7 linked regions of the Homo sapiens genome follow. The protein of the gene in region 1 interacts with the protein of each later gene in a pairwise test. Each region holds a gene or a part of one and is shown on either strand. Other genes may lie near its edges. The genes, in order: LAMP2, DLX3, EPM2A, MAGEA8, SUCNR1, CAPN2 and SNCA.

Region 1 (3,500 bases):
CAGCAGCTCAAGCCAGTTTTCCTTTTCTTTTTAGACATACACGAATTTATCCAGAGGAGTGGTATGTAGCAGAAGAATCAGGGACTGGTTTACACAGCAAACCAGGCAAAGGGCAACCTGGCCATGGAGAATGTATGATTTAGGCTGAAGTGGCATGCCCTACATAAATGCTTGGTGTTCCTTGCTGCCTGTTTGTTTCTCACCCCCAAATTTCTATTTCTTTTAGAAAACTGTAACCATTTCAGACCATGGCACTGTGACATATAATGGAAGCATTTGTGGGGATGATCAGAATGGTCCCAAAATAGCAGTGCAGTTCGGACCTGGCTTTTCCTGGATTGCGAATTTTACCAAGGCAGCATCTACTTATTCAATTGACAGCGTCTCATTTTCCTACAACACTGGTGATAACACAACATTTCCTGATGCTGAAGATAAAGGTAACCTTAAGAATGGATTTGTGTTATGTTCTCTTGCTTTTTATTAATGATAAAAATGTAAACAATTTTAAAATTGTTATGAATGTCTGTCTTCCTAACTAGCATGGAAACTTCATGTCTTTATAACCCTCCCACTGACCCCATGCATGGCACATATGACACCATCCAACATACTGATGATATTTGCTGTCATTGCTTGAGTGACTTACTGTATACCAGGTATTATCCTAGTATACAGTAAGTCACCTTACTATATATATCCTAGTATACATATATATGTGTATATATATACATATATATGTATATCCTAGTATATATGTATATATATATATACACATATATCCTAGTATATATATACACACATATCCTAGTATATATGTATATATATATCCTAGTGTGTGTGTATATATATATATATATATCCTAGTGTGTGTGTGTGTGTATATATATATATATATCTCCTAGTATACAGTAACACACCTAGTGTGTTACCTGCAGCATCTCACTTAATTCTTAACAGCAACCCTGGGAAGTAGATGTTGTTTCATTTTTACAGGTAAAGGAAATGAGGCTTGATAAGATTAAATGACTTTTCCAAACATCACACAGTCTGGTAAGTGGGCGAGCTGGTGTTTGAAGCAGTCTATTGACCTGCAGAATTCATATACTTAACTATTATTGATTTCATTCAGTAGTGTGCATGAAACAAAGGTTTGATGAATGAGAAAATGCTTTACTAATAGCTACTTTATTTTCAAGATCGGGGGTTGGGGGGGGTGTCTCACTATGTTGCCTAGGCTGGTTTTGAACTCCTGGATTCAAGCGATCCTCATGCCTCACAGCCTCCTGAATAGCTGGGACTACAGGCATGCACCACTGTGCCTGGCTACTAATAGCTATTTTAAATGTGTAAAAGTTAAGTAACCTGAGACTAGGAGAAATGCCTCTTGTTCAAATCTTTTTATCATTTAGGTTGGATTTTGATTGAAAAGTAAATGATGATTAGTTAAAGGTGTAGTAGTCCCTCATTACACTCAGGGGGTATCATTCTAAGATCTCCCGTAGATGCCTAAAACTGCAGTTACTACTAAACCCTATACAGGAAATGCTATGTTTTTTTTTTTTTTTTGATCTGATAACTGACATGGCTACTAAGTGACTAACGGATGGATAGTGTAGACAACGTTGATATACTGGACAAAGGGATGATTCATGTTCCTGGTTGTGCAGAGCGGGACAGCAAGAGATTTAATCATGCTACTCAGAATGGCGTACATTTTAAAACCTATGAATTGATTACTTTTGGAATTCTCCATTGAATATTTTCAGAGCTCAATTGACCATGGGTAACTGAAACCAGGGAAAGCAAAAACCGTGGATAAGGGGAGACTAAAGTCAACATTTGCTGTTATTTTAAGACAATTTCAGGTCAAAATGAACTTGGGAAGCATTGGCAATTAGGCCATTCTAGTAATTCCCAGAACTGAAATGCGTGTTAAAATATTTTGAAGATATAGAGTGTAGAGATTTTATTTTATTTTATTATTTTGAGCTGGAGTCTCGCTCTGTCGCCCAGGCTGGAGTGCAGTGGCCTGATCTCGGCTTACTGCAACCTCCGCCTCCCAGGTTCAAGCAATTCTCCTGCCTCAGCCTCCTGAGTAACTGAGATTACAGGTGCGTGCCACCACGCCCGGCTAATCTTTGTATTTTTAGTAGAGACAGGGTTTCTCCATGTTGGCCAGGATGGTCTCGAAATCCTGACCTCACGATCCACCCACCTCAGCCTCCCAAAGTGCTGGGATTACAGGCGTGAGCCACCGCACGTGGTCGAGATTTTAATTTTGTTAGGGATATAATTCTCTTCTTTCTCCCCCTGCCCGTTGAGATTGAGTTAATGTGGTATTTGTAGTAGCTTAGCTCTTTGCAGATAGTGTTTCATTCTGACCCCAGAAACAGGTAGATGGGCTTTAGTTGCCTAGACCTGGGGATTAATAACTCATTTGGACTTAAGGATGTCAAAAGATCCTATTCGAAAGAACCAGAAGTAAATAAGCTCACGTAAAATTTGGGAGGTATTGCAGAATGAGACTTGGAAATCAAATCCTAGTGTTCTTTTTACTAATCTCTTAGTTTGAGAGTATAACTAAAGCAAATGGTTATTGGCTATCTTATCAGTTTATCTTTGTGCCCTGTTTTGCCTTTCAGAGCTAGTATAAGATATGCCCCTCACTTTCAAGTAGCCTAAGAATGAGCTGGGGAGACAAAGCTAAATGCTATTCCCGAGTTACATGGAAAAATTGGAAAACATTGAGCTCAGTCTGATTTTGTTGTTGTTGTTTGCGTTTTTGTTTGAGGGAGTAGAGGGTTCATAAATCTCTTCTGACAGTGTGAGGAAAACTTTAGACTCCCTCTCAAAAAAGAAAAAGTACACAGTAAACTTTGCATATGGAACATAGTCCCTGAACCCATATGTAGATCCCTGTGGTTAAGAGTGCCTGATTTAGGTCGAGAATGGTAGCTCATGCCTGTAATCCCAGCACTTTGGGTGGCCGAGGCAGGCTGATCACTTGAGCCAGGGAGTTCAAGACTAGCCTGGGCAACATATTAAGACTTTGTCTCTACAAAAAAAAAAAAAAAAAAAAAGCCAGGTGTGGTGGCGTGTGCCTGTGGTCCCAGCTACCTGGGTGGCTAGGGTGGAGGATCGCTTGAGCCCAGGAGGTTGAGGCTCCAGTGAGCTGTGATCCCACCACTACACTCAGCCTGGGTGACAGAGAGAGAGAGACCCTGTCTCAAAAAAAAAAGAAAAGAAAAAGAAAAGACTGGCTGATTTAAAAGTGTTCCCGTGTTCCCACAAGTGGTCCTGATTAGGAGGAGTGATAAAGGAAGGCTCAGTGTGTGTTAGAGTAGTGAGAAAGCTTGGTAGAGAAGTAGGACCTGAGCTGAAACTCAGCTAATGGTAGAATTTGAGTAAGCGGAGGATTTTGAGCAGGATGTTTCCAGCAGGGGGAAGCATAGCATATGCGGCAGTAATTGGAGAGCTGCCTGATTAAATCAGGCTGT
Region 2 (4,104 bases), on another chromosome or scaffold:
CACAGAGGGGAGCCATTCTTCAGGGCTTTTCTGGTGCAGGAGGAATTCAGTGGAGCAGTACAGCTCCCAGCTACTGGAGATGAGGAAGGTACTAAGCGGTCTAGACACATCTGCCTACAACCACATGTTCACACGCGGATGGCCCTCCACTCATGCTGCCTGCACCCCGCCCCCGACACACTCCTGCATGCATGTACCTCTGTGGATACTGTGGAACACATGAAATCCTCACATCACACACCCCAAATACACTCGTCCCATGCACCCAGTCCCCAAAAGTGTCCCAATTCCCCAGTGCTGTCCCATGATACACAAAATCTGCCCTCAGACTTACTGAAGCACACAGTCACAGAGCCAGCCTGTGTCCACCCAACCTCGTGGGGACCCCAGGTCCCTTGCTACCTTCAGCAAGACTGGGCCATCTGTGAAACTGCACATACATAGCTTTGGAGATAGTTCTGGTATCACCGGACAGGCTGTACATCCCCAACAACCTCTAAATCCACACAGGTCTGCTTCCCCTTCTCCAATAGGATCCTCCTAGTGCTAAATTATGTCTTTCATAGGCTCAAGACATTCTTGCCCGGTGGGCACCTTCCTAAATAAAAAGAAAATTTTTTAAATTACGTTTTTGTAATTATGTAATACAAGGATATAATAGCAATGACTGCATTGCTATTAAGATAATATATTAATATCATATATTCAAACATTCTCTTTCACCTAAAAGGTGTTTTCCTTTTCTTCTGATTTTAAGAGAAACCATTTTCAGGGGCTGTGAGTCCTCACCACTTTGGGTACATTTGTGTGCCTGTCATTTGCACAGTGCGTGCACACGTGTGCACACACACACAACCATACCCCACCTTAGACCATCTCTTTCCACAAACACACAATGGGCAAACTCCCCTCCTTGCCCACCTCACCTAAGCCCATCTCTCATCCCCCAGCCAGAGAAACAGACTGACAGATCCTGGGGGCTCCACAGAGCAACCCTTCCCCTCCACCTCCACGCCCCTCCTTCAGAGAACTTATCTGGGCTGGAGCTACAAGAGTAGCGAGGGTGTGTGTGTGTGTGTGTGTGTGTGTGTGTGTTTTGAGTAACAACAAAGACTGGGGAAAAAGAAGAGAGAGGAGGGAGGAGAGAAGGAAAAGGGAGAGAGAGAGAGAGAGGAGAGCATAGGAGCGAGAGAGCAAAAGCGTGTTTTGCCTGGAAGGCAAGACTTGCAGCCAATCAGCGCGTAGGAGCCTCCCTCGGCGACTCCACTATTGAGTCTATAACCGGCTGGCCGGGCGGAGCTGGCAGCATTTGATTGTGGCTTGGGACGCGAGGAGAGGCGCGCAGCGACCGCCTGACGGCAGGCAATGGTGTAAGCGCCTCTCGGCCTCCCCCTCCCCCCAGACGCGGCCGGGTCCTCCCTTCGCCTTCTGGACACACACCCCTGCCTCGTCTCTTCCGCCTCTCTCGCACTCCGGTCCGTTCCTGTCCTCTGCGGAGGCCAGCCCTGGGGAGGTGCAGCGCCCGCCAGGATGAGTGGCTCCTTCGATCGCAAGCTCAGCAGCATCCTCACCGACATCTCCAGCTCCCTTAGCTGCCATGCGGGCTCCAAGGACTCGCCTACCCTGCCCGAGTCTTCTGTCACTGACCTGGGCTACTACAGCGCTCCCCAGCACGATTACTACTCGGGCCAGCCCTATGGCCAGACGGTGAACCCCTACACCTACCACCACCAATTCAATCTCAATGGGCTTGCAGGCACGGGCGCTTACTCGCCCAAGTCGGAATATACCTACGGAGCCTCCTACCGGCAATACGGGGCGTATCGGGAGCAGCCGCTGCCAGCCCAGGACCCAGGTGAGGGCCACGGGGTCGCGAGGACAGTGGGAGACACTGGAAGGTTCCCGAGGGAGGAAAAGGCATGGACTGGAAGCCAAAATCTAGGAAAACTTCTAAGAAAAGTACTGTCTGGAGTTAGAGAAGTTGGCCTAGATGACCCTCAGAGGGACCAGGCGACCTTCCAGCCCCGGGTGTGCAAGCATTTGGGGCGCGATGTGCGCAGTGCGCCGCGGTCCCGGATGAGGATCGGGATGAGCTGAGAGAGGAAGGGGAAGGCTGTGGGTTGTTAGGAAACCTCCGAATCGAGGTGATTTCGTGGGCATTTCAGCAGGCGATCCTCGATCAAGTCGCAGAGGGCTTGGGGGTAGGCGGCAGGGGCTGGAAACTCTAGGGGCCCTCCTTTGGATAAGGGATGGGGAGACTAGGAGTCGTGAGGGGGCAATGAGAAGGACCCACGGAAGTTGCGGGAAAGCGGAGGGAAGCAGCCACCGAGAGGCAGAGAAGCTGAAAAAGGGAAAAGTGAAGGCAGCAAGAGGGAAGTATGGAAAGACAGTGAGAGAAAGGGCAGAAGAAACAAGAAAGGAAGGAGAGAAGGAAGGGGGGAAGAAGGGGGACAGGGAAAGAAAGAAAGTCTGCACTATCCTTGCAACTTTTCTGAAAATCTAAAGAGATTCTAAAATGAAACTTTTTTAAAGGGCGGGGGGCGGACGGGAAGGAGCGAGAGAAACAACCGACGGCGAGATGGGACTGGGAAGGGGGCGGCTAGCAGCCGGGCGGCGAGGAGCCCCGAGGCTGGGAGGCGAGCCGGGAAGGCGTCGTGAGCGAAGCCGAGGCGGTCCTGGCGCAGGCGGCGGCTGGCGCCGGGGACAGTGCTGCGGCGGCCGGGCGCGGAGCTGGGAGCGCCGCGTTGTGGGCCGCGGCCAGTTCTGGCTCTGGGGCCGCGGCTCCCCCCTGGGCCGCGGGCAGCGGAGCGCGCGGCCGGGAATCCCGCGGCGAGTCGGTGGGCGGAAGCGAGGGGCGTCCGGCGGGGCCCTGGAGGGTCGCAGGAGTCGCAGGCCGAGGCTGAACCGCCCCCTCTTCCGCCCGGTGCGTTCCCCGCAGTGTCGGTGAAGGAGGAGCCGGAAGCAGAGGTGCGCATGGTGAATGGGAAGCCCAAGAAGGTCCGAAAGCCGCGTACGATCTACTCCAGCTACCAGCTGGCCGCCCTGCAGCGCCGCTTCCAGAAGGCCCAGTACCTGGCGCTGCCCGAGCGCGCCGAGCTGGCCGCGCAGCTGGGCCTCACGCAGACACAGGTTGGTGTTTGGCTGTCCAGGGCCGCGGGGGCGCGCGGGACCCCGTAGTTCCCCGCGCGCTGCCGAGCCTGGCTGGCCACTGAAGGGCCCTGCGGGCTCCTGGAACTCTTGCCTTTGGGATGGGGGCCTGCGAGGTTCAACTTCGGTGGGAAGGTTCTGCGTTAGCACGTGTACAAGTGAGCATAGTTGTGAACCCGTGCAACTGTGTATGTTCCCCTACTCCAGAATTCCCAGCTCCCAAGTCCCCCAGCAGTGCTAGTCACTTAGTAGGAGTCCACATCGTGTTTTCCCTCCAGGCTAGGCATGTGTGCAGACTGTCTGTGTGCATGTATAGGCGAGTGTGTTTGCACACATGCTGTGTGGGTCTGCATGCACCGGAGGATGCTCATGTAAGGAGTGTGATCCTGCCGGGGTCATTGTGCATAACGATGGGGGCATGTGTGTGTGACTGTGCGCCCTGAATGTATATGCGTTCTGAATGCATGTTCAGAAATGTGTGCTTGCATCAAAATACCACATTCCTGCTCAGCACTTGAACGCTCAAGAGAGGCCAAATTCCCTACCTGAAGGAGATGGGGACTCAAAAGTGAGTGCCGCACCCCCACCCTCATCCAGTCCCTAAAGCCCCCAGCAGCCTGTCACTGCTCAGGGGAGGAGCAGTGGATGCCTGGCTCCCTCCAGGTGTTGACAGGCGGGCCTAGGTTGTGGCTGTGGCTGCGTGGGGCCCCATCCGCCGGGAATCTGGGTCACCTGGTGAGGAGCTGATTCATTGTTTGTACCAGTCATGGGGTGGGGAGTGGCAGGGGGAGGGGGAGATACCCCAGGGGAAATTTGGGGAATCATGGCTCACCTGCTCCTGAGTCCCCAGGTCACCCCCATTATCCAGCCCGAGCCCAGGAGAACTTCTCCACACCTGAGTGTGTGAATGTGGGTGCTCATGTTGTGGGGTGCTTATCTGGGTGTATCTGTGTCTGC
Region 3 (2,716 bases), on another chromosome or scaffold:
CATTATTTCTTACACCAAGCCAAGTGATTTTTACCACACCTTAATGATGGTCAAAAGAGAGTGTTTTGTGTTGTGTTTTACATTTTTCCTAATGCTGGCAAGCAGAATGATAGAAAGATAATGTTTCAAGTCTGAAAGAAAACCACCTCATTCAGACTTTCCTTCACCATGAATGAGATCTTCTCATGATTGCCTTTGAGAAATCCGTGATTGAAAAGTTTTGTTAAACACCAGTGACAAGCAGCTAATGGCATAATATCTGCTTTGATTTTCTCAGACACACTCTAAGTTTTCATCCTCACTTCTCTGTGGTCCTTCACCTTTGACTTCCTTTATCATGTAACTGCCAATTTTGATCGTTTAATTGAAAGAGGAAGAGTGACAAGAAAAATAAACAATTTAGCTCAGTGGATTGCCCCCTTTACAAATAAGGAAACAAAATTTGTCCTTCTAGATTTCAGACTAAGCTGATAACATTTTAAAAATCCTGTACAGAAAGGTCTTTTTAAATGCTTTTATTTGCCAAAAGTTTTGGGTGATTTTGAAATACATTAGACATCCCATTCATTGAGGAAAAAGACAGTTTATTCCAAAACATTCTTTAATAGTCCTAAACTGATTTTGTCTATCAGAGCAAAAGGAACAAAGGTAAAAATCCACCTGAAAAAAGATCTTTGTATCATGGAAATTATGAAGCTGGATTTCTTAGACATTAAAGAAATTCACAGACCCACATAGTTTAAAAATTTAATTTTTAAGATTAAATTTTCACAACACATTATGACTGTAAATGAGTTACCTGAATACCAATTATTACCTCTAGTTATTTTTAGCAAGGGAGCTGGACTTCACTTTACTTAATGCTAGCTTATAAATTTAACTTTGTAAAATTATAGTGGAAATGTGTCCTGGCTAGCTGCCTCTGCCCAAAGCAAATGTCATCTCCCCTAAGTGCCACAGTTCTATCTCCCCGTCCTCTGAGCTCCACTGAAACTTACCTTGTATCCTTCTTGTCCCCCACGCCTTCTAAATAAGAGTCTCTTGCATCTATCAATATGTGTTTGTGGAAGAAAGGAAGGTGCAGAAAAATAAATACGCATCATAGTTTAATTAGGAAAGTAAGGGCTTTGAATCAAACCCAGCTTTGTATCTCACTTCATCTATTTATTCATCATGTGACAATAGACAGTTGAGTTAACCCTTCTGACCTTAGTTTCCCCATCTTTATCATGGAGATAATGAGACCTTCTTCATTGGATATTGTGAAGATTAAACTGGATATGATTATATATCACCTTGCACATAGAGGCTCTCAATTAAAAAAACACTTCTCTTTCTTCTATTCTAGCATATCATTCATGGTCCAATCCTGCATTACAGTTGGTTGAATGCAGGTCTGTTTCTAGGCAGCACATTTTTGAAGGCAAAGTTGTTCATCTCTGTATTTCCTGTAGAACCTAGGGTGATGAGCTGCATAGTCTGGAGGCACAGGAACTGCATATTATACTAAATTGAGAGCTGAGCCAGGATGGCCAAGGCTGTGAAGCAATTATCCATGGATTTGGTCATTTGGGCTCTTTTGGTAGTATAGTTCCTCTCATGAATTTCCACTCTGGTCTTAAAACAGCCCATCATGTTTTTAAATTAGCTTGCACAAAATACAACTAATTTCCTAGATTCTTTGGCAACTGATCAGAATACTATTCTATGTCTCGCTATAGAAACTCCTGCAGGCATATTGACTATACCCTGAGAAAGACAAAACTAAATGCACTACATGATGCTGGGAAAACAAGTTGTGATGAAAACAGTGCTGAGTCAAATAAATATAGATTATTAACTCCAGCTTGCCCTTGACTGGTCATGAGACCTTGGACAAGCTACCTATGCTCATTAAGCCTCAATTTAACTTCTTGACATCTCAACTATAAAAAACAAGGGTATTTTTTGCTTTGTTTGGTAATTTTGAGGAAAAACAACAACAAATGAGAGATAATTCTACTTTAGTTGTTACACAGGGTTGTTGGGTAGAGAAGGAAGGTGATGCCTTGGAACAGACTTTAACAACTGTGAGGCAGGATAAAAAACAAGTCCTGAAAGCCATCACTTTTTGACCATAGTGAGCTCTTCTTTTGTAACGGTTCAGGCTTCTAACCTTATTTCCTCCTTTGGCAACTGACCAGCTCACGCACACATACTAGTGATGAAATCCACATAACTCCATATCTTTTCCTCTACATGGCCAAGAGTTTCAGTGCAACAGGAAAGTGCTGTCACGGATCCATCGTGCAACACATACAGTGCTGTAAAGCAAAGGCCTCGTCTGCCTGCAGGCAGCAGGAACTGCACGCATTACCCTTCTGTCTGATGTACAGCCTAACTGCTTCGTGCTTCTTCTCATGTGTTGAGCCACAGCTTTCTTGTAGAGTATTTCAAAAATACAGCCCCAAAACAAAGCATAATCGAAAGTCATCCCAGGTGAAAGTGGTTGGCTTGGGGGAGGTCACACAGTCCTTTCAGTTCAGGTAGAATCCTTGTTTCTAGGTCATTTGACCAACATCATCCCAGGCTCCTTAGGGAAATCAGGAGGGGGCAGAAGCAGGCTGACCAGCTACAGGCTACACACAGAAGAACGAACCTTCCCAAATTTCTGGAAAAAATCTTCTTGTGCCCGGGCCAAGGCCTCTTCGTCAATGTAGACAGCCGGCCTCTTGGC
Region 4 (3,931 bases), about 29 Mb from region 1:
TTTTAAAGGACCACCCCACATCAATGTAGGATCCGAGTCTGCACCTCAAAACACGAAGCCAGTAGCCCAGGGGTAATATCAGGACACCAGGAAAATTGGATTGATTGAGACACCATGGCTCCAGAATTCTGCTAATAACAACTAGAAACAAAGAGTAGGTTAGGACTACCTTCCAAAATACTATTATTTTAATCAAATATATATAATGAACTAGAAATAGAATAGTATGAGTGAATCACACATTGTATGAGTAGATATTGTTTGATAAAATAAGTACGTATAGTCGACATACATATATGTATAAATATATGTAAAGATATATACACATACATTCATATAATTACACATATATAATATAAACATATACATACATATGTGTTTATGCATATAAACATAAATATAATGCACATATACAATTGGCATAGATTTAAAATTCGTTTCTTACTATACGAATGCGAATTAAATTATGAAAATCACTAAAGTGGAATAGGAATTGTTAGGTAACTTCAAAACTCAGGACTTCCACAAATTTATTGCAGCTACTCAGTTTCTTCAGTGTAAAAATAAATCATTTAGTACAAAAGTTTTGCAAAATCCTCTTCTAGCTGGGGAAGAGCCCCCGTGGGAAGGTGTGCCTCTTCTCCCAGAGGTCACTACAATCTTAGGTGCTGCAAACCCACAGGGAGAATCTGGCCTGGGACCCGCAGCCATTCTCTGCAAGGGGTGCAGCTGTGCAAATGCTCAGAGGTGACAGAAACAGAGTATCTCCTAAAAGAGCCAAGAGTCAAGAAGAGGACCCTCCTGAGTGAGGACTGAGGGTCCACCCACACCACATAGAGGGGCCACATAATTCAGCTCAGACCCTCATGTCAGCCCTGAAAGACCCCAGCAGCCTTGTCCCCCCACCACACCCTTCCCCCCACTGCCACCTCAGGGGACTCGGAATCAGAACCTTGGTCTGAGGGAAGCAGACACCATCAGCAGAGTACGGAGCTCCAGGCTCTGCCAGATCTCAAAGTGAGAACCTTGAGGGATGACTGAACCGCTCCTCCCTCATCCCCCGCCCCACTAGAATCCGGTTCCGCCCCTGTTGTCCACCCAGGTGAGCCCTGGGTGGACGGATGTGACGCCACTGACGTGGCCGCGGGGATCAGAGAGAAGCGAGGGCCTGGTTCTGAGGGGTCGGCTTGAGATCGGCTGAGGGAAGCGGGCTCAGGGTCTGTGAGGAGGCAAGGTGAGACCCTGAGGGAGGACTGAGGAGGCCCCCACCCCTCATATAGGACCCAAAATAATCTAGCGCCGCCCCTGCTGCCAGCCCTGGACCACCAGGGGGCAGACTTGTCTGGCTGGGCCACCCCTCGCCAGCCCTGCGCTTAAGCCCCAGGGGAATCTGGAGTGAGAGCTTGGTGTGACCAGAGCAGGGCTGGTTAGCAGAGGGCAGGGCCCAGGTTCTGCCAGGCATCAAGGGCAGGACCCTGAGGGAGGGCTGAGGCTCCACAGAGCACATCTCTGCCCCTACTGTCAGCCCTGGGAAGCCCTAGGCATGGCGGCCGGGCATGGCGGCCGGGCATGGCGGCCGGGCATGGCGGCCGGGCATGGCGGCCGGGCATGGCGGCCGGGCTCGCTGATTCTGACGTCCGCATCCGGGGCTGATGCAGCAAAGGGGCTTCATGAGCACGGACTCAAGAGGAGCAGAGGGAGGGCCCAGGCTATGCTGGGAGATGAGGAGGCCCGAGGGGACCCAGGACCCCAGGACAGGGGGCCCACCCTACCTGTCTGAGACTGAGGGGCCTCCACATTTGGCCTCAGGAATCCGAGGGACTGAAACTCAAGTCAGCAGGGGGGTGGTGAACAGCCCTGCCAGGAGTCAAGGAGAAGAAGAAGAGGGAGGACTCAGGGGTCCTTGGACTCCAGATCAGTGGAGATCTCAGCCTTGGGAAGTCCCAGGATCTGTGGCTGCATGTGGCGCATCCTTGCTGCATTTTCAGGGTGTCAGAAAGGAGACAGCTGTGGTCTGAGGAGTGGAGTCTCAGATCACTGGAGAGAGGTGCCCCAGAGCCCTTAAGGAGGACTCAGCAGACCTCCCATCATGGCCTAGGAAACCTGCTCCCACTCTCAGGTCTGGGCACCCAAGGCAGGACAGTGGGGAAGGGATGTGGCCCCCCCACTTTCTGGTAGGGGGCCTCAAGGAGATGGTGGCCTTGGCATGCAAGACACATCCACGGTTCAGCAGGAAGGAAAGGGCCATGCCTTGTCGTGGAGTAAATATGAATACCTGGATGACACCCAGACAGAGAAAGACCCCATGAAACCTACTACTTCTGTCAGCCGTGGGAATCCCATGCAGGGTTGTCCATGTAGTGCCTCCTTACTTCTGCCTCCTGGGTCTCAGGGAGGTAGCAACCTGGGTCTGAAGGGCGTCCTCAGCTCAGCAGAGGGAGCCACACCTGTTCAACAGAGGGACGGGGTCACAGGATCTGCAGGACCCAAGATGTGCTCACTTTGTGATGAATGGGGGTACTCCTGGCCTGGAAAGAAGGGACCCCACAAAGTCTGGCTAACTTTGGTTATTATCTCTGGGGGAACCCGATCAAGGGTGGCCCTAAGTGGAGATCTCATCTGTACTGTGGGCAGGAAGTTGGGGAAACGCAGGAAGATAAGGTCTTGGTGGTAAGGGGAGATGTCTGCTCATATCAGGGTGTTGTGGGTTGAGGAAGGGCGGGCTCCATCAGGGGAAAGATGAATAACCCCCTGAAGACCTTAGAACCCACCACTCAAGAACAAGTAGGGACAGATCCTAGTGTCACCCCTGGACACCCCACCCAGTGGTCATCAGATGTGGTGGCTCCTCATTTCTCTCTTGAGATCTCAGGGAAGTGAGGACCTTGTTCTCAGAGGGCAACTCAGGACAAAACAGGGACCCCCATGTGGGCAACAGACTCAGTGGTCCAAGAATCTACCAAGAGTCTAGGTGACAACACTGAGGGAAGATTGAGGGTACCCTCGATGGTTCTCCTAGCAGGCAAAAAACAGATGGGGGCCCAACAGAAATCTGCCCGGCCTCTTTTGTCACCCCTGAGAGCATGAGCAGGACTATCAGCTGAGGCCCCTGTGTTATACCAGACTCATTGGTCTCAGGGAGAAGAAGGCCTTGGTCTGAGGGCACTGCATTCAGGTCAGCAGAGCGGGGGTCCAAGGCCCTGCCAGGAGTCAGGGACTCAGAGGACACCACTCACCAAACACACAGGACCGAACCCCACCCTGCACCTTCTGTCAGCCATGGGAAGTGCAGGGAAAGGTGGGTGGATGGAATCCCCTCATTTGCTCTTCCAGTGTCTCCTGGAGATAGGTCCTTGGATTAAGGAAGTGGCCTCAGGTCAGCCCAGGACACATGGGCCCCAATGTATTTTGTGTAGCTATTGCTTTTTTCTCACCCTAGGACAGGACACGTGGGCCCCATTGCATTTTGTGTAGCTATTGCTTTTTTCCCAGGAGGCCTTGGGCATGTGGGGCCAGATGTGGGTCCCTTCATATCCTTGTCTTCCATATCAGGGATATAAACTCTTGATCTGAAAGTTTCTCAGGCCAGCAAAAGGGCCAGATCCAGGCCCTGCCAGGAGAAAGATGAGGGCCCTGAATGAGCACAGAAAGGACCATCCACACAAAATAGTGGGGAGCTCACAGAGTCAGGCTCACCCTCCTGACAGCACTGGGGTGCTGGGGCTGTGCTTGCAGTCTGCAGCCTGAGTTCCCCTCGATTTATCTTCTAGGAGCTCCAGGAACCAGGCTGTGAGGTCTTGGTCTGAGGCAGTATCTTCAATCACAGAGCATAAGAGGCCCAGGCAGTAGTAGCAGTCAAGCTGAGGTGGTGTTTCCCCTGTATGTATACCAGAGGCCCCTCTGGCATCAGAACAGCAGGAACCCCACAGTT
Region 5 (3,500 bases), on another chromosome or scaffold:
CCTGGTAGATATTTAATTTTGCCTTATACAAATGTGTTTCTAAACTACAGCTACTACTACTACAATTACTAATTTTTAATACTTATCATATTATATTATATATAGTGTTGACTTTCACAGTGAAATAAGCAATGAGCTTAATCTGATGGTCTTGCTGCTTATCTGGCCTTGGAGAAAATATTTATAAAAATGCTTTGTAAATAGTCAGGTGTTCATATTCATCTCTTCACTCAACAAAGATTTATAGATCACCTACTATCTGCTGGTCACTGTGCCAGATGTGGACAATAAAAAATGAGTAAGACAAAGTTATACAAAATTCTAAGAAGTTTAGTATACAATGAAAGCATAAATGGGAGGACCTACTTTAGACTGAGGGTCAGACAGCCTACCTTGGGAAACCTACACTTGAACAGAGGCCTGAGAGAAGTATAGATATATGACAAATATGTGATGGGCCAGGAATCACAGGACAAAAACAGCAGTGAAAAGAGATTCAGATAGAGGGACTGCATGTTAAGAAGGCTCTCTGTGCATTCAAAGAGCAGGAAGAAAGGAAGATGAATTAGGAGGAGAGTAATGCCAAGCAAAATTGAAGTGGGTGCAGGGGCCAGATCATGCAGACCTTGATGTCCCCATTAAGGATTTTAGACTATATTCCTTGGATAGTGGAAAGTTAATTAAGGGTTTTGATCAAGGAAAGCTATATGATCTGATTTTGAGTTGTAGTTTTTCAAGACTGTTTAGCTATAATGGTAAAGATGAACTGATGAGGGCCAGAGAGGATGTGAGGAGACAATAGCAGAATATGACATAGAGCAAAATAGAGATAAGAGTAGCCTGGACGAGAATGATAATGAAAGCTATAGAGCAGTAATGATAGATTTGAGAAATACCCAGACATTACAGTAAACAGACTTGGTAGTTTATTCATTACTGGTGTTGAGTTTTAGATGACTTTGAGGATATTGCTTAGATTTTCGTGGTGAGCACCTGGATACATGGCAGAACCATTTACTGAAATTGGTGGATATGCTGCAGGCTTGGTAAGGAATTTGGAGAATTTGGTGTAGGATTTCTAGAGGCAGAGACATCTGAGAGAAATCAATCAATGGCAATAAACAATTATAGTTTGTAAGGCAGATACAAGCTGGGCTGGAAATCTGGGAGTTGTTGATGTATAGTTGGTCATTAAACCTCAAAAGTGAATGAGATCATTTAGGAAGAATCTATGAAAAGAAGGAGCCCAGAAATTAGCCTTGAGGAACTCAACATTTATTGCTTGAGCCAAGAAGACTTGAGCCCCAAAAGTGCCTGCAAAGAACAACCAGGGAGAAAGAAGGGAAACTAGGATATTGTCATGTCTCAGAAGGCAAAAGAAGAGTGTTTCCAGAAGACAGAGTATGAAAAACAACTGATAAATAAAATAAGATTAGTGAAAAATGATTATTGGAATGAGCAATGTGGAGGCTACTTGGAGGACTGGTAGGTCCGAAGCCAAATTGGAGTAAGTTGAAAGGGAATGGGGTGTCGAGATGTCAAAACACTTAATGAGATGGCTCTTTCCAGAAATCAAACTATGAAGAGGAGAGGAACACGTGAAACTAGGGAGAGTTGTTTATGTTGCTCCTTATTGTAAGATTGAAATGATGAGAGTGTTTAAATTCTAATGGAAAAGAGGACATGAAGACTGACGATGAGGAGAAGAATGCTGAAGAGTCAGAAAAGAAGAAATAATGGTACCATGGGAATACTGAGAATTTGGGAATGAGTTGGATCTAGAGTAAGCTCAACAAATGCTCTCTATCTCAATGAACTAGGAGGTAAAACCATTTGCTAATAATGAGTAAGGTAGAGTAAATGAAAAAAGTTTTAAGAGATAAAAAAATATGAAATTGAGAAATATAGGAATATGCTGGCAATATGAGAGAGCGGTAGAATTAGGTGACCTCAAAGACAGAGTGAAACCCATCTGCTTTATTCTTCAGCAGCATTCATGTGTCTGCTGCTTGAGAAAGTTTCCACTCAGCTTTGTCTGGAATTGGACTTAGTGGCAGGTTGCCATAGAGAGATTCGAGAGACTCCGAAAAATGTATAATGTTTTAAAGTAAGTGATTAAAAATAACTTTTCAAAATATTAAACTTATATCTACAATTCTGTGACTTATTTTCATAAATAAAACACTCTCAAAATAACAATGATCTTTAACTAAAGTAAACCACTTGAATTTGACAAAAATACATGAGTTTTCCAGATGCCTTATCATAGCAAATTCTACTGAATTTTGCATGCTTCTCATAAAAAGCAGTTTAGGTGCATTTATTCTTATTTTGTTCTATTTACCAAAATTCTAAATTGAAAGAATTGTTTGTTTGCAACTAATACTCAGAAGCCTACTTGACAAAGAGGTTTTTAGAACATTTTGTTTTCAACCTTGGTTTTCCTCACTAGAAATAAGTAACACTTAATGTTTAACAATGGCAATCCAGTACTTTTTTCAGATAATTAAAGTTCTTGAAATACCCTATCCAATCACAATCTGGCCTCTTGACAAGAGTTAAAAACAGTAGGTTAGCAAGACTCTTGAGGTTTGAGTGAGTCAGGTTGCTTATTTCCATGGTACATATTCAGAAGGCATTACAATAAAGGTCTTTCACTAAGCATATGACCTAGGCAAATGCCATGGTCTTAATATTGGTGTCTCCTCAAAATGTATGTTGGAACCTAATAGTATTAAGAGGCGGGGCCTTTTGGAAAGTGATGAAGCCATGAAGACTCTACCTTCATGAATGGGATTGGTACTCTTGTGAAAGAAGATTAACGGAGCTGCCTTGCCCCTTCTGAAATTGTTGTGAGGACACAGCAGCCACCATCTTTGGAGCACAAGGTGACTTTTCATCAGACACCAAATCTGCTGATACCTTGATCTTGGACTTTTCAGTCTATAGAACTGTGAGAAATAAATTTCTTTTTTTTATAAATTACTGAGTCTGAGGCATGGCATCTTTCAATAAATCATGACCAATGTTAATATTACTAAGATTTTCAGTTTCATATTTTGAATTTTTAAAAATTAAGTTTTAAAACTGAAGTTGTATCATAGTTTATGAATTTAATACAATAAGCAGAATTCTTTGGCAATATGGAAACAAGTAAAAGCTTAAAATAGTGAGACTGAAGTTCTAAAAATTCTTATTTCCTCTTCTAGGTTATGGTTTAACTCAGCAGAATTTGTTGAACAACTACGACATGCTGGGGATCATGGTATGTTTAGAGACACAAAAGTGAATTCAAAATCTTCTCTTCAATTATTTTATCATACGTTCCCTTTGTTTCTTTGCTATTTGCCAAGCCCTCTATTTGTGTTTCCACCTTAATGCCTTCACATGTGCTCTTTCTTATGCCTGGAACACTTCCTGCAAATATAGATATGTCTCTTTCACTTTCTTCATTGAGGTTTTTGTTTAAATGTCATCTTGTATAAAAGCCTCTCCCTTAT
Region 6 (3,500 bases), on another chromosome or scaffold:
TGAGGGCTTCGAAGACTTCACCGGAGGCATTGCTGAGTGGTATGAGTTGAAGAAGCCCCCTCCCAACCTGTTCAAGATCATCCAGAAAGCTCTGCAAAAAGGCTCTCTCCTTGGCTGCTCCATCGACGTAAGTCCAGGCTGCCTTCCCTAGCCTCACCCCATCTGCTCTTGCTGAAGGGAGGCTCCCACAGTGCCCAAGGGAACCCACTGCTCCTGTGTACAACGTAATGCAGCCCTCGTCCACGTAGGGGCCAAAGGAAAACCTCCCTCCACCCTCTGAAGGTCCGCTGAAAATCAACTGGCAAAAGGAAGACTAATACAAGAAATGGCATACAAATGTATGAATGTGGACAGGGGAGAATCACAAGAGATTTCCCTACCACGCATTGGGATACAGAGGGTTATATTCCCTTCCTCTTAGGGGAAGGGAGATGGGGAGGTGCGGATGATTTTAGGGATGTCGTAAATGATTTTTAGGGGAATTCATTGGGCTTAAAGAACATAAATGGTCTGGGATAAAGTCTGTTGGGCCTGCAGAGCAGACAGTGGTTTGTGACAAGTCTGTCTAGCCATGTTGACAGACTTGTCTTTCTTCCTGCAATATGAGTTCAGTTCATAATAACTCATGGAAAGGACCAGACGTCATTGTTTTCATCTTTGGCAGGTCCAGACTTTAGGCAGGTGAGGGAACTTCAGAGAATAGCTTCCTCCTGTGCTTTGGGGGAGAGTGGATCGAGAGACAGAAGGAAAGGGGAGGTCAGAGAGATCTTGAGGCTTCTTCAGTTTAGCATTTCAAAGTGCCATCTCTTAGAGGTATTGGTTTCTGAGCACCCCAGTGTCTACCATTATTGCTCATCACCTGGAAGCCAAGGGTTGCTAGGCAAAAGTCAAGCTGTCTGGGGTGTAATGGATGGGGTGATGGTGCCTCCAGCCCTTCTGTCTTCAGTCCACTTCCCACTCTTAGCCTGCTCTGAATCACCCCCACCCCTCTGACCACAGGTTCCCTGGGAGCCCCTGCCACCTGCTGCCCCTGCCACCTTCCCCTCCATCTGCAGTGCTGTGCAGCCTTCCCCTGCACTCTTGCAGAGCTAATAGGCCCGTGGGAGACTTCGGAAGGAAGAGGAGGAAAGATTTCCTCATAATAGCCTTGCTGGCAACGCTCACCAGGGGATGGGAGGTGGGCACTGTGCCCAGGAGCCTTGGAGCAAAGGCTGTGCCCAACCTCTGAGCCCTGTCCCATCCAGGTTCTGGTCTCTGCGGGGGACAGAGATAAGAAGCCCTGGCTTTTGGAGCCAAAATCTAGGTCAGACTCCCTAGGCAGGAATTCTCAAAGTTTATCAGCAGAACACGTTGAGGCAGAAGACCCTTTCTGCTCCAGCCCTTCTTCCCAGGCTCAACCTTCATCAGAATAGATAGGGGAAAGGAGAGGCTGTGAGGCGTTCTTAAAACAGAAGCAAATTCTGACTCAGACCGGAATAAACAACCGTCCTAGTATAAACCCTACAGCTGGGCTGGGCCAGACCACGGAGCATGGGCTGGTGGTGGGGCGAGGGTGTGCTCAGTGTCCCTGGGCCACTCAAGGCTGTCTGGGTATCAGCCCTGCGCCATCGAGGACCCCCTCCGGCCCTCTCTCGGCCGTGCGCCCTTTCCCTGCGCCATCGAGGACCCCCTCCAGCCCTCTCTCGGCCGTGCGCCCTTTCCCGCCCTTCCCAGCCTGCAGAAATCCGTGGATGCGCTATTCACACGGGAATGCCTGTGCTCGTTCCGCGAGAGGGTTGCATTCCGCCTTTTCTCTGGTATTCTCGGCGTTCAAGCATTTGAACGGGGTAGGAAAGGTTCTCCAAGTGCAAGAAAGCGCAGCCCTGAGCCTCCCACCCCAGGCCTCGGCCGCTGCGCTAGTGCGTCCGGCGGTCCCGCCCGGCAGTAGGACAGAGGGAGCGAGGGAGTCCGGGAGGAAGGGAGAGCGGGTGCGGCCAGTCTGACGGTTGCTGTGTTTGCAGATCACCAGCGCCGCGGACTCGGAGGCCATCACGTTTCAGAAGCTGGTGAAGGGGCACGCGTACTCGGTCACCGGAGCCGAGGAGGTAACGGCCGGCGCGGATGTGCAGGGGTCCTGCTGTCCTGACACGATGGCCACAGGCACAGTTTGTGGTGATGCCCAGGGGCCCGCGCGGCCCCACGGTGGTCCAGTTTACACTCGGGCCCCGCACTCCTGAAGTTCCGCGCGGGAGGAGAAGGGCGTCCCTTTCGCAGCTCGGGCGCCGGGTGCGCCGCGCTGCCACCTGGTGGCCGCAGTGGCCGGCGCCAGGGGCCCTGGTTTTACTTGTTTTAGATGTTACCCTGTTTTACAGTTACAACCTTACTATTTTGATAAGCTAAAAATAATAAAACAATGCATCTTCATAGTGTTTTATACTCTATAAGGTGCTTTCTCTTTTGATCTCGTAAAAGTATTCGTGCCCATGTTCAAATCTGACTGCCTCTTACCAGCTGTGTGGCCTGGGCCAATTACTGGAACTCTCTGTCCCTTAGTTTCCTCATTTAAAAAATGGAAATAATGATAATATCCATTGGAAGGTCGTGGCGATTCAATCAAGTTAATATATGTAAAGTGCTCAGAGGTGACTCACACATCATATATAAGGAGGTAGCTGTCCTTGCTGTTGTGATCACTGTTGTTATTGAAAATATTATGGGCTGACATGGTGGCTCACACCTGAAATCCCAACACTTTGGGAGACCGAGGTGGGAGGATCACTCGAGCCTAGGAGTTCAAGACCAGCCTGGGCAACGTAGCAAGAACCTGTCTCTACAAAAAAAAGTTAGCTGGGCATGGTGGCATGCCACTGTCGTCCCAGCTACTCGGGAGGCTGAGGTGGGAGGATCACTTGAGCCCAGGAGGTCGAGGCTGTAGTGAGCCATGATCATGCCATTGCACCCCAGCCTCAGCGACAAAGTAAGACCATGTCTCAAAAAAAAAATTATCAAGCAACTCAAGTTCACTGTTAATTACAGAACCCAGTCTAGACCGCAGATCTTCTGCATGTCCAGTGTTCTTTTTTTAACCTTGATTTTTTTAACTACCCCCTCACACACACACGTCTTTTTATTTGAAAATTTTCACGTATACAGAAAAGTTGAAAGACTAACATAATAACTATCCAATTGCCACTCCCCTAGATTCACCGATTGCTAACATTTGCCATGTCTGCTTTATCTATGTGTGCACTTTTTTTGAGCCATATGAAAGTAAGTTGCAGACGTTATGACACTTCCCTCCTCAATACTTCAGCATTTATTCCCTATGAATAAGGACATTCTGTTACATAATTCCTCTACTGTTGCCACACCTAAGAAAATAACATTAATTCAGTAGTGTCATCTATTATAAAGTCTATACTAACATTTTCCCAGTTGCCCAAAATGTCCTTTCTGGCGACCCACCCCAACCCCATCCAGGACTCAATCCAGATTCACTCACTGCATGTGCCTGTTATCAC
Region 7 (2,781 bases), on another chromosome or scaffold:
TAGATTGAAGCCACAAAATCCACAGCACACAAAGACCCTGCTACCATGTATTCACTTCAGTGAAAGGGAAGCACCGAAATGCTGAGTGGGGGCAGGTACAGATACTTCAATCACTGCTGATGGAAGACTTCGAGATACACTGTAAAAACTTTGAGAAATGTCATGACTGGGCACATTGGAACTGAGCACTTGTACAGGATGGAACATCTGTCAGCAGATCTCAAGAAACTGGGAGCAAAGATATTTCTTAGGCTTCAGGTTCGTAGTCTTGATACCCTTCCTAATATTAGAAAAATCAAAAAGACAGCACACACTGTTAGTATAAGTTTCAATTACGCATCAGCACTGACAGCCAATGAGATAGGAAATGGCTCCCCACTTACACTAAAATTTACAATCAATGTTTTTGCAAATATTCTGCAGCAAATATTATCTTATTTTTAATAGTTGTGTCTTTCTTGTCTGATATAAAAGTGAATTACAGTAGTAGTCAGAGTTAAAATATCTAGGTTCTGATCCGGATGCACCATTTAATGATCATATACCTAGTTTGGTAGGACAAATAAGTTGGACTGTCTGGTTCTCAGTTTCTTCACCTGTAAAATGTGAGAACAAAATCAAGCTGTCTATAAAGCCTTTTCCAGACTAAGATGCTCTAATTCTCAGAAGGAAATTAAGATGTTTGAAGGCAAGATACATTTTCCCTACTTTCACTCTCCCAGTTGAAAATTTCGTCTTCATCTATGGCTTCAATTATTACTTGTATTTCAAACCTCAAGCTCTCCATACAGTATCTGGATAGCATCCACAACACAAATATTAATGGATTTAATTAAAGGGATCAGATTATTCCTCCTAAAGAGCAACTCTAATAATATCAGGATTCTGCTTAAAAACAAACAAATAAGCATAACTTCAATAACTCAAGTTGTTTTCTGAATAGAATACAAGCTGAAATGACAAGATTATCCTAATACTCTATAACTTGTCTTTGACCCATAGCTGCAAATTCAATCTATCACCATTTTCCTTGTTCCTAAGCTTGAGTCATAATTATTCACTGTTCTCAGACATATCCATTTGCATGCTCAGACATACATGCCTTTGCTTCTGATATTCCCTTGTGCCAGAATGTCCTCTGTTTGTTTTGACCTACTATATCTCTTACCTTTTCCCACCCAGATCAACATTACCTCCTCAATAAAACTTCTCCTGATTGATTGAAACAGATCTTTAAAATGTTTTACTTTTTAGTATGTCTTATATATTTTTGCTCCTGTGATGCCTGGTACATCGAAGACAATCAATTATGTTTGTTAAAGGAATCATAATGAAGAAATGAATGAATGAATTTCTATTTTTTTTCATCAAACCTACCAGACTGTAAACTCCTTATGTCCTGGTAATGTCAATTACTCTATAGTTTTCCATTGTGTTTAGTACTGTGTCTTGCATAAAAGACCCCAAAATATTGGAAATTCTTATTAGGCAAACAAACAATTTAATCTCAATTTCTATAAGTTGAATTATTATCAATATGCCTTTCGTGTGTCTGTGTGAGACAGTCTTGCTCTGTTACCAAGATTGGAGTGCAGGGGTGCCATCTCAGCTCACTGCAACCTCTGCCTCCTGGGTTCAAGTGACTCTCATGCCTCAGCCTCCCAAGTAGCTGGAACCATAGGCGTGTACCACCATGCCCGGCTAATTTTTGTATTTTTAGTAGAGATGGGGTTTCACCATGTTGGCCAGACTGGTCTCCAACTCCTGGCCTCAAGTAACCTGGCCACTTTGGCTCACAAAGTGCGGGATTACAGGTGTGAACTGCTGTGCCCATCCTCGACATGCCTTTTAATAATGCCGTGAGGAATAATACATAACCAAACTACAACATACTTGAACTCAATTTTTAATGGAGCCATTATATAGTTTCTTTTCTTGTGATATCTTCATTTGGTTTTGATTATCAGGGTAATATTGGTCTCACAAAATTAGTTGGGAAATGTCTCCTCTTCTGTTTTGTAAGAGATATTAATTGGTGTTAACTAATTAGTATTAATTCCTCTTTAAATGTTTGGTAGAATTTACCAGTGATGCCATCTCGGCCTGGGATTTTCTTTGCAGGTAGGTTTTTTTTTTTATTACTAATTTAATCTATTCGCTGTGTTACAAATCTATTCAGATTTACTGTTTCTTCTTGGGCCAGTTTTATTCATCTAACAGTATTTTCTAATTTCCCTTTTGATACATTTTCTATTAAAGATACTTTCATTTTCAATCAAAATAAAATTAACAATCATATTGTGTTGTTTAAAACATTATACTGGAATATATCAATTGTCGCAAATCATGCATTTATCTTTTTATTCTATAACTTGTGTGGGTAACTTTTATTTTACTATGCGTCATCCCATTGGACATGTATGGCAAAAAATAATAACCTTCCTTTGGCATTCCATTGATTTCCCTAACTTTCCATTTAGAAATTTATTTTAGAATGTAAAGTTTCTAAAAATATATTCTCTAATGCAGGGGTTAGTAAACTTTTCCTGTAAAGGGTCAAGTAGTAAGTATATTAAGCTATGTGGACTACATATGATTTCTTTTACATCCTTTCTTCCTCTTCTTCATCTTCCTCCTCCTCTTTTTTTTTAAGGACCCTTTAAAAATGTAAAAACTATTCTTAACTTGCAAGTTGTCCACGTAATGAGCATGTAGAGAGCAAATGATTCTCACTAAGCACTAATGAAAGAGAAATGTGACAATGACAGGTTTTTGGTACTG

What was found.
Region 2: the proteins of LAMP2 (region 1) and DLX3 interact in binary tests that used the Homo sapiens proteins (3 or more experiments, as listed by UniProt).
Region 3: the proteins of LAMP2 (region 1) and EPM2A interact in binary tests that used the Homo sapiens proteins (3 or more experiments, as listed by UniProt).
Region 4: the proteins of LAMP2 (region 1) and MAGEA8 interact in binary tests that used the Homo sapiens proteins (3 or more experiments, as listed by UniProt).
Region 5: the proteins of LAMP2 (region 1) and SUCNR1 interact in binary tests that used the Homo sapiens proteins (3 or more experiments, as listed by UniProt).
Region 6: the proteins of LAMP2 (region 1) and CAPN2 interact in binary tests that used the Homo sapiens proteins (3 or more experiments, as listed by UniProt).
Region 7: the proteins of LAMP2 (region 1) and SNCA interact in binary tests that used the Homo sapiens proteins (3 or more experiments, as listed by UniProt).

The regions. Positions count from the first base shown.
Region 1 is NC_000023.11:120,452,297-120,455,796, reverse strand, and holds part of LAMP2 (lysosome-associated membrane glycoprotein 2 isoform A precursor), read left to right. Parts: intron 1-226; coding exon 227-440; intron 441-3,500. UniProt on the Homo sapiens protein: Lysosomal membrane glycoprotein which plays an important role in lysosome biogenesis, lysosomal pH regulation and autophagy.
Region 2 is NC_000017.11:49,992,425-49,996,528, reverse strand, and holds the start of DLX3 (homeobox protein DLX-3), read left to right. Parts: upstream 1-1,304; 5' UTR 1,305-1,530; coding exon 1,531-1,855; intron 1,856-2,938; coding exon 2,939-3,129; intron 3,130-4,104. UniProt on the Homo sapiens protein: Transcriptional activator. Activates transcription of GNRHR, via binding to the downstream activin regulatory element (DARE) in the gene promoter.
Region 3 is NC_000006.12:145,624,805-145,627,520, forward strand, and holds the end of EPM2A (laforin), read right to left. Parts: coding exon 2,612-2,716; 3' UTR 921-2,611; coding exon of another isoform or gene 891-920; 3' UTR 501-890; downstream 1-500. UniProt on the Homo sapiens protein: Plays an important role in preventing glycogen hyperphosphorylation and the formation of insoluble aggregates, via its activity as glycogen phosphatase, and by promoting the ubiquitination of proteins involved in glycogen metabolism via its interaction with the E3 ubiquitin ligase NHLRC1/malin.
Region 4 is NC_000023.11:149,880,052-149,883,982, forward strand, and holds the start of MAGEA8 (melanoma-associated antigen 8), read left to right. Parts: upstream 1-1,131; 5' UTR 1,132-1,234; intron 1,235-2,316; exon of another isoform or gene 2,317-2,447; intron 2,448-3,019; exon of another isoform or gene 3,020-3,298; intron 3,299-3,770; exon of another isoform or gene 3,771-3,931. UniProt on the Homo sapiens protein: Not known, though may play a role in embryonal development and tumor transformation or aspects of tumor progression.
Region 5 is NC_000003.12:151,876,643-151,880,142, forward strand, and holds part of SUCNR1 (succinate receptor 1), read left to right. Parts: intron 1-3,209; 5' UTR 3,210-3,250; coding exon 3,251-3,265; intron 3,266-3,500. UniProt on the Homo sapiens protein: G protein-coupled receptor for succinate able to mediate signaling through Gq/GNAQ or Gi/GNAI second messengers depending on the cell type and the processes regulated.
Region 6 is NC_000001.11:223,747,039-223,750,538, forward strand, and holds part of CAPN2 (calpain-2 catalytic subunit), read left to right. Parts: coding exon 1-127; intron 128-2,000; coding exon 2,001-2,084; intron 2,085-3,500. UniProt on the Homo sapiens protein: Calcium-regulated non-lysosomal thiol-protease which catalyzes limited proteolysis of substrates involved in cytoskeletal remodeling and signal transduction. Proteolytically cleaves MYOC at 'Arg-226'.
Region 7 is NC_000004.12:89,726,381-89,729,161, forward strand, and holds part of SNCA (alpha-synuclein), read right to left. Parts: intron 281-2,781; coding exon 248-280; 3' UTR 1-247. UniProt on the Homo sapiens protein: Neuronal protein that plays several roles in synaptic activity such as regulation of synaptic vesicle trafficking and subsequent neurotransmitter release.